Regions from separate parts of the Homo sapiens genome. Here region 2 is linked to region 1. Evidence: fine-mapped expression QTL. A gene starts in region 1. The other region holds a variant in brackets. All regions are shown on one strand. Distances are from middle to middle.

Evidence for each region. PIP is the estimated chance that this variant, and not a neighbour inherited with it, causes the effect.
Region 2: its variant is fine-mapped to the expression of CCDC69 in whole blood (INTERVAL, PIP above 0.99).

What each region holds. Positions count from the first base shown.
Region 1 is chr5:151,221,968-151,226,346 of GRCh38, forward strand. CCDC69 (coiled-coil domain containing 69) reads right to left here and starts at 2,125. Exons shown (of 9, transcript NM_015621.3): 1 at 1,956-2,125. The coding sequence starts at 2,003. LOC105378230 (a long non-coding RNA gene) reads left to right here. Exons shown (of 4, transcript NR_160730.1): 4 at 1,509-2,383. RefSeq lists enhancers at 1-127, 1,548-1,657, 1,678-1,877 and silencers at 1,998-2,077, 3,561-3,855.
Region 2 is chr5:151,179,546-151,183,924 of GRCh38, forward strand. It overlaps CCDC69 (coiled-coil domain containing 69), which reads right to left. Exons shown (of 9, transcript NM_015621.3): 9 at 1,507-4,069. The coding sequence ends at 3,892. It also overlaps the pseudogene PDGFRL2P. Among named protein-coding and RNA genes, the nearest start is that of ANXA6, 24 kb to the left of the region's middle. The variant G/A (reference allele first, on the strand shown) is at 2,231.

The DNA.
Region 1 (4,379 bases):
TGCCATATAGGGGCAGGGGCCTGGCATGGCTGGGGCCAAGAAGGCATGCCAGGCTGTTCTCTGAGGCAACAGGAGTAAAAGATTTTACGCTAAAGTCATCAAGAAGCCACTGGAAGCACAGCGGGAGGAGGTGGAGACAAAGAACACGGAGCTAGGGGACTAGATACCTGGGTTCTGCTCTGTGTTGCTCTGTGACCTCAGTCATGCTCCTTCCCTTTTCTAGGCCTTAACCTCCTATCTGTATAGTGGGTGCGTCAGCCCAGGTAGTACCCAAAGGCCCTTTCCAACTCAGACAGGCTGTGCCAGCTTTACTTGCCCTTCAGAGCTTTGGCTGTGCCAGGGACAGGCAGGAACAGCTGGTAAGTCTCTCAGAAGGAGCAGGAGCCAAAGAACCTGTGCTTACTGTGACCTCCTCTTCCAGCTTGTGGAAGGGTCAGGCTCTTCCCCGTTTCCTCCACCTCTAGGTAGATGGAATTCACCCTTGGTCCACTTTGCAAGCTACAAGGTTGACACAGGTGCAGAGAACACAGACTCTCAGATGCTTAGGGATCATCCTGCTCATCACTCCCCATACAGGGAGAAACTGAGACCCAGGGAGACACAAGGGCTTGCTTGGGGTCACCCAGTATGTTTATGGCACCACCAGGACTTACACCCAGGGCTAATGTCTGCCTACCACTTGCTCAGTTACAAGTCTCAGCCAAGGCTCAGGTCTCTCCGCCTTGTCATCCCTGTCAGCCAGCCCCTTCCTTCTACTGATAGAGCCAAGCCTCAGTTTCCCTGTTGGAGTGAGTAAAGACATGAGGGTTTCTAGGTCAGGAGTTGGTGAGAATTTCAATCTGGTAATAAAGGGAGAGCAAGGAAAGCCAGGAGGTGTCAGAGAAGGGAGTAGAATCCTCCAGGCTAGGACTACTGTTAGGCAGAAAAACCTGTACTCAGGGCACAAGCAAAGCAGGAGCAGAGGGAGGACTAAAGTTCATTGCAAAACTATTAAACACTGTCACAGTTTGGGGCCTCTCAAGGTCTCAAGGGGGAATGATGATAAAGTTTAAGGGATCACCTAGTCCCACCTGGCTAGGGGGCAGGTAGTGGTAAGAAAAGGGGCCAGAATTTGAGGGTCCTTCTTCCCCTCTGCCTCACAGTGTCCCCTGAGGAGGCTATCTTTCTAGCTCCAGGCTCTGACCTTCTGGGCTCGTCAGACCCCAAGGGGCAGCTGGTCTCACTGCAAGAAACCTGAGAATTGTCCCCTGGGCCCTGACCCAGCTCCAAGGCCCCTTGGGGGAAGGACAGGAAGGGAGGAGAGGGCCACAGAACGCAGTAGATCTCCTCCCTCTTTGGCCCCTCCCAGCTACCCCAAGGGCAGCCCACACTCACCAGCTCTGGGGCCTGCAAGAGCCCTAAGACCAGCGCCTCAAACTTTAAAGCGTCATCACCTGGGCATATTGTTAAAAGGCAGCTTCTGTCTTGGCAAGACTGGGCCTGAGCCTGAGATTCTGCATTTCTGACAGGTCCCCAGGGATGCTGATACTGCGAGTCTGTGGAACACTCTTCGAGCAGCCCTGAGATTATCAGCCTTTAACCCCCGGGGGGAGGAAGCCGAAGGCCCAGAGAGGTCAAGTCACTTGTCCATGGCCACACAGCGAACAGCCCCAGACCGAAAGCAGAGGGCACCTGCCACAGACACACGACATCTCCCCACCCGAGGCAGCGGGAATCAGCTGCCTTTCCCTGGCCCGGGTGCCGTGTTTGTAAACTCGGCTGCTTGGTGCGGCTCGGGCCGGGGTAAAGGGCGCCTCCCAGCAGAGCCTCCCTCGTCTCTGAGCTGGCCTCTCCAGGTTCTCCGTCCGGTATCCCGGGCCGACCAGAGAGAGCCCGGGGCGCCGAGTCCTCTGCGGCGGAGCGATTCCGCACTCCCCTCTCCTCTGAAAGCAAACTTCTCCGCCGGCGCCCTTTACCTTTTTCGGGGGTTTGCAGCTGCTCAGCCTGCTGTGTCTGCAGCCCATCCTCCTCCGGGGGCTCCCGGACGCCGCTTCCCAACTCCGGGGCCCCCAGAGGAGCCTGCGATCCGGGCCCCGCTGCCCGCTCCGCGCCCGCCGGCTGGGGCTGCCGGCGAGACCCTGAAACTGAACCTGGAAGCGCTGTCTTGAGCCTGAGCTGGGGCGGCCGCCCGCCGTAAATACCCGAAGAGCGGGGCCTCAGTGTAGCCCGCAGGGCCAGCGGCGCCGCCACCAGAGGCAGGTGACCAGAATCCTTCTAAATAATAGGAAGCTCTGGTCAGGGCAGAAGAAAAGAAAACCTCAAGGAGCAACAGATGCTTTTCCGAACCCTCAGCTAAGAAAGGGCCGGGGGAAAAAATAATTAAAGCAATTATTTGATAAACTAACAACTATCATTCATTGAGGGCTGTTTTTGTCCCAGTTGTTTTATACATTTTATTTCTATTTCTTGCCATATCAGTGCAACAAAGGTATTACTTCCTCCATTTTACAGGTGAGGAAAATGGTGTTCAGAGATGCAACATGATTTGCCTAAGGTCACATGGCTAGTAAGTTACCACAGCCCAGATAGAATCCAGTTCCTTTTTTTTTTTTTTTTTTGCCGCTATCATAGTTCACTGCAGCCTCAAACTCCTGGGCTCAAGCGAGCCTCCCAGCTCAGCCTCCTGAGTAGCTGGGACTACAGAGGCTCACCACCATACCCAACCAAATTCTTTTCTTTTTTCCAGTCTGATTTTGAACGACCGCCCTCAAGCGATCCTCCCACCCTGGCCTCCCAAAGCGTTGGGATTACAGGCATGAGCCACTGCACAGAATACAGTTCTAACTCCAGAACCTAAACTTTGACTCAATGGCCTACAAATAAATCATAATACTAAGTTTATTGTATTTATTTATTTTTGAGACAGAGTCTCGCTCTATTGCCCAGGCTAGAGTGCAGTGGCACGATCTTGGCTCACTGCAACCTCTGCCTCCCAGGTTCAAGTGATTCTCCTGCCTCAGCCTCCCCAGTAGCTGGGATTACAGGCATGCACCACGACACCCAACTAATTTTTGTATTTTTAGTAGAGACAGAGTTTCACCATTTTGACCAGGCTGATCTCAAACTCCCAACCTCAGGTAATCCGCCCGCTTCGGCCTCCCAAAGTCCTGGGATCCCACACCTGGCCAATAATACTAAGTTTAATTTTAATGCCTCCTCACTTCTGGGCTGATAGTTTTTTCCACCTCACAAGCATCTGTAATATTTGACTCTATCCATCTTGGATAGATGTTATTCATCACAACAACCTCTTGAGGCAGGCCAGGTATGGTGACTATGGGACATAAAATGTCAGTGTCTAGGAAAAGGAGCTTTTGTTTATCTTCTCTTTGTTATTAGCTGAGGTTTCTGAAATGGCAATGCAGGAAAAAGATAACCAATTTTGAAAATCAGTGTGTATGCCTATTTGCGTGTATATTGGAATATTAAAGTCAGGCCCAAAACTCTTGGAAAGGTGTGCTGTGAAAACGGCTTAGAGTCATGAATGGGGAAAGAATATGAGACCTCAAAAAAATTGCTCCCTCCATAGGGTACAAAACCAATTGCAAAAGTGTGTAAGAAAGGAAACTAAGGAAACGTGTTATTAGGTTCTCAAAAGCAAGTATAATAGAGAATGGTGGCTCACAAAGTGTGATTCCCAAATCAGCAGTGTCAGCACTACCAGCCGCCTTTGTTGGAAATGCAAATTCTCGGGCCCCACCCCTGGCCTAAACTCTGGGGATGGGGCTTAGGAATCTATGGCTTCATAAGCACTCCACTCATGTCTGGCCTGGGCTAAAGTTTGAGAACCCCTGCCATAGGACGTGCTCCACAGGTACTGAAGAAACAGGATATACTTAAATTATACTAAAATTAACAATGTTTATTGGAACAGTGCTCATGATTAAAAACAAAGAACCCAAAACAACCTAAACAGCCAAGAAAAGAAGGTTGGTTAAATACATTATGCTATATCCATAAAAATAGAATGCCACATAACCAGCAAAAATACTGATGAAGATGAATTTTTTGTGTTACAAAACATAACAAACTCATTTTCATTAAAAAAAAAAATTGAGTGACTACCACTGTATTGGTGAGATTTTGAAATTTTAAAACAGTTTTTTTTTTTTTGAGACAGGATCTTGCAATATCACCCAGGCTGGAGGGCGGTGGAGTGATCATGGCTCACTGCAGCCTCAGTCTTCCAGGCTTAAGTGATCCTCCCACCTGAGCCTCCCGAGTAGCTGAGACCACAAGTGCCTGCCACCAAGCCTAGCTAATTTAAAAAAAAAAAATTTTGTAGGCCAGGCACAGTGGCTCATGCCTGTAATCCCAGCACCTTGGGAGGCTGAGGTGGA
Region 2 (4,379 bases), 42 kb before region 1:
CCCTGAAAAGGAGGCCAGTGGCACCCAGTGAGGGTGCCCTGTGGAACCCAGTGAGGGTGCCCTGTTCCCCCCGAACTTAAAACACTCTGGCTCCACCTCGCTCCAGTCATTTGTGTAGCCTGAGCTGGCACATAGCGACTTCCCGAGTTCATCTCTCCATTCCCTGCAGTGGCTGCAAGGATGTGATAAAGGTGAACTCCACAGAGGCCTTAGGCATTGGAAAGGGTAAAGGATCATTCTCCCACTTGTCAGAAGAGGAAACTGAGACCCAAGAAGGGGAAAGGAGCATACAGACGGTCAGGAGACACTGGCTTGGCTTTACCAGGATTTCCCCAACATGTTCTTTAGAAGGGTGGAATACCAGAAAGTTCCCTCCCACCCTACCTCACTTCCTCTTATAACCATTACCTGTCTTGGAGATTCAAAATACACAGGTACATGTAACAGACTCAGTGGTCGGAGTCTACCCAATTTCACTTTGCTTTTCTTAATGTTTCCAAAACACTTTTGGTAGTAAAATTCTTCCTCTTCCTCTCCTTTGAGGAGGTAGCATCCCTACAGAAGCAGAGGGCCACAAAACCCACGTTGGGAAGTACTTCCCTGGACTGAGTTACCTCTGGACACTCTTTGAGAAGGGGAGGGAAACCCAGCTTTTCTCTGCAGACTTGAGAAGCTTAACGTTTTTCACAAAGAACCTGGCCTTTAAGGTGCTCTGACACCAAGCTGAAGTGTGACCTTGGGCAAGTCACTTCTCCTTTCCCCAAAGAGATAAATGGTGCCTCTTACCTGACCCTGGTGTGTGAGTCAGAGATGCACCTGGGGCAGCTGATGGACAGTCCGTTTTTATCCCCTACCGTTGGGCCAACCACTCTACATCAGTGAACAGGCCCATGTGGTACACGGGGAGAGCCAGGTACAGCAGGAGGCAGAGGGCACCCTGTATGTGGAGGGGACCTGGGCTAGGGATGCTGGTGTCTACACCTGCTGGGCCACCAACCTTCAGGGCACTGGTTTGGCCACCACCCATGTCCACGTGACTCGAGGTCCTCGTGTCTCCTCTACCCCTTCCTAGCTCCCTCCCTGGCCACAGGCATCTGGATGTGGAGCAATAGGCAGAATCAGGGGTAGGTACCTGTGGGAACATCAGTGTTTCTGATGCCAAAGAGGGGTCCTGCAGTGCAGAAGGTGACTTCTCATTCATCCTCGCAGTCTCTCCCACCCCATCCCTCTGTTTTCACCACTTACTTCAACCTCAGCCTCACTCCAAGCCTTGGTCTATTTTGAAGGCCATCCTTTAATCCAGGCTTCACCCTAGCCCCAGGCCCCACATCCACAATTAGGGCAAAGCAAGGGCCAGTGGGGCTTTGGTGCTTGAGGAGAGTGCCCAGAACCACGAGTGGGCTACCCAGGCCCCAGATTTACTCTTCAGAGATCCCCACCATTGGCAGAAGTCCTTGTGAAGACCCACCTCCCCACCCTCCCAGAAAAACACAAAAGTCACATAAATAAGGTGCCGCATGTTCTTTTTAGTTTCCATACATCGTCTGTCCCAGAGTGAGGAGAAGTTGATCTCCTTCCCACATCCACCACAGGCTGCGTGAGGGAAGCCTGGCTCCCCACAACTTGCTCCTTCTCCAGCCCTGCCCCTCTCAATTAAAACAATGCTTTCTTTTTTCTTTTCTTTTTTTTGAGACGGAGTCTTGCTCTGTCACCCGGGCTGGAGTGCAGTGGCGCGATCTTGGCTCACTGCAAGCTCCGCCTCCTGGGTTCACACCATTCTCCAGCCTCAGCCTCCCAAGCTGCTGGGACTACAGGCGCCCACCACCACGCCAAGCTAATTTTTTGTATTTTTTTAGTAGAGACAGGGTTTCACTGTGTTAGCCAGGATGGTCTCAATCTCCCAACCTTGTGATCCACCCACCTCGGCCTCCCAAAGTGCTGGGATTACAGGCGTGAGCCACTGTGCCTGGACTAAAACAATGCTTTCTAAAGCGCATTCTGCAGCCTGATGTGCCTGTGAGGTGAGAGGTGTGGGAGGGACAGAAGCTTTGTTCAAAGAGGTTTGGGAGAGGCTGGATACTTAGCTCCCTTCTTGTAAGTTTGCCACACACATTGGCATATTAAAGGTTCTGAGAAGTCATTCAGGTCACTGATCTGTTTAGGTGTCCCCAAATAACTTGGCCACCAATCATGTCTACTCCTGGACATTAGTTCAATAAACTAGTGTATC[G/A]CAGATGTGCTTTGCAAAAAGCTTCATGAAAAAGTACACATGTGATTCCCTCCAGGGCTTTCCTCGAGGCTCCTGGGTGACCTGTCTGACCATGGCTGGAGAATCAGCACAGCACTCCCCTAGCCTCACCTCTTCCCCCATTTGGCTGTGGAAATGGAGAAACACAGTCACCTCTGAACTTCTAAACCTAGAAACAGAAGGAGACTGTACACAGGGGAATACAGAAGGCAGTCTGGGATGATGTCACTATAGAATGACTGATGAAAAATGCAGATTGACTGTTCTGACGCTGGCTTAGGGCCTGGGGCTGAAGCTGGGGACCTTGAGCAAGGCCCTTTGACTCCTGTGATCTGTTTGCCATGTTGCCAATGAGGAATAGGAACCTGCTTCAAGGATCTTATGAGGACCAGGGGAGGGAGGGGTATGGAAAGCCTTTGATGCAAATGCTCTATGCAGAACAGGAGTTATAATTATAGTCTCCATTAGACATGAAGCTTCCTGAGAAGGATCCGAAATCCACAGACTATCAGGACTGGACGGCCTGCTGAGGTTAGTTACTCTAGCCACCCCTTTTCACTGATGGGGAAGCTGAGCACCAGGTTGTAAAAGCCTGGGCCTGGGATCAGGGGCAGTGGGAGGAGGAGTTAAGGCAGGGAGCAGGAATGAAAAAGAAACTAAGTGGGTGAGGGCCAGGGAGAGGAAGATTAAGTCACAGATCTGATTTTCCAGAGCCTGAAGAGAAAAACAGAGCAAAGGATAAGACCCGGATGACAGATGAGATCTAGATTCGACTCTGGGAACTGCTCCATGCCTTGGTTTCCTCATCTGTGCAGGGATGAGGTTCCAGCTCTGATAGATGAATGGACTCACAACCACCAAGCTTGCCCCTGTGCCCAGGTGGCACCAAGACTGAAGGGCCAGGAGGGCTGAGGGGATGCACCTTGCCTGGTAAAGGAAGAGGAGCTCTGGCTACTGTCCCTTGGTGGACACGACTCTGGCCCAGGAATGATGCCTCAGCTGGGGAGGCTGCCTGGCCCTGTCAGCCCCAAGGGCCTTCAGAGACCCCCTCTCTACCACTCACCTTCCCCACTCTGATTTGCGGGGTTTGTCCACACTCCCCCCAACCCCTACTCTGGCCTTCAGACAATCCTAGAATGGGACACTGCAGTGACATAAGAGTCCTTTGACCAGTCCCCCCACCATTTTAATGCAGGGGTAAACTGAGGCTCTGAGCAGGCCAGGGTGGAGTGGAAACACCTAGAGGAAGTTGATAAGTCAGCAAGTCGGCAGCAGAGCTGACAAGCTGGGACCAGGGGCTGTCTCCTTTATGTCAAATGGCCAGCGTGACACAGACTGCCCCTGGGAAAGCCTCGGAACTTCTCGGATTGGGACAGAGTGCTGGGGCAGGGAGGAAATGTCTCCTCTTGCTTATTCCCTTGGCCAACTCAAGGGAAGACGCTTCTCGGGGCCTCCAAAACCCTGTGGGTGATTCCATGTAACTCAAGGCCCCAGGGCTCACTGGGCACACACCCAGGATCTCCATCTCGCTCCCACCCTCGTTCCTTCCTGGAAAAGAACTGAGAGGCTCCTGCTGTCTTCTCCAGAAAAACCTTGGAAGGAGCTGTGACTTCAGGCGTCGTGGTGGGCCCAGGCCCTGCACCCTATGTGGCGAGGAAAGAGACCTCAGTGGGAGTGACAGGGGCCAGAGGGAAGGCAGGCGAGGCATTGGCCCCAAGGACCCGGTACAACAGCTCCTCCTTCTCCTGCTGGAGCTGTCGCCGCAGCTGCACCTCCTTCTCCAGGGCCTCACGCGTGAGAAGCAGGTCTTCTGACAGCTGCCTGTGGATGCACACAGAGCCCAGGGTTGCCTACTGGGAGCAGCTGCCACAGAGACCAACCCATTCCCCCAGGAAGCCTTCCTTAGATGGACCAGCAGCCTGCTGCAGGGTCCCCACTGCCCTCCTTGTTGGCCTGTATACAAGAGGCAATTCAATCTGTTGACCAAGGAGCGGGGGCCTCACAGACAGGCAGGCAGTTCTGAGCTGCTTCAAATCTCTGCTCTACCACTTAGCTATATAATCTTGAATAAGTTATTCATTCTTCTTAAATTTCAGTCTTCTCATTTGTAAAATGGGAAGAAGAAGAATAG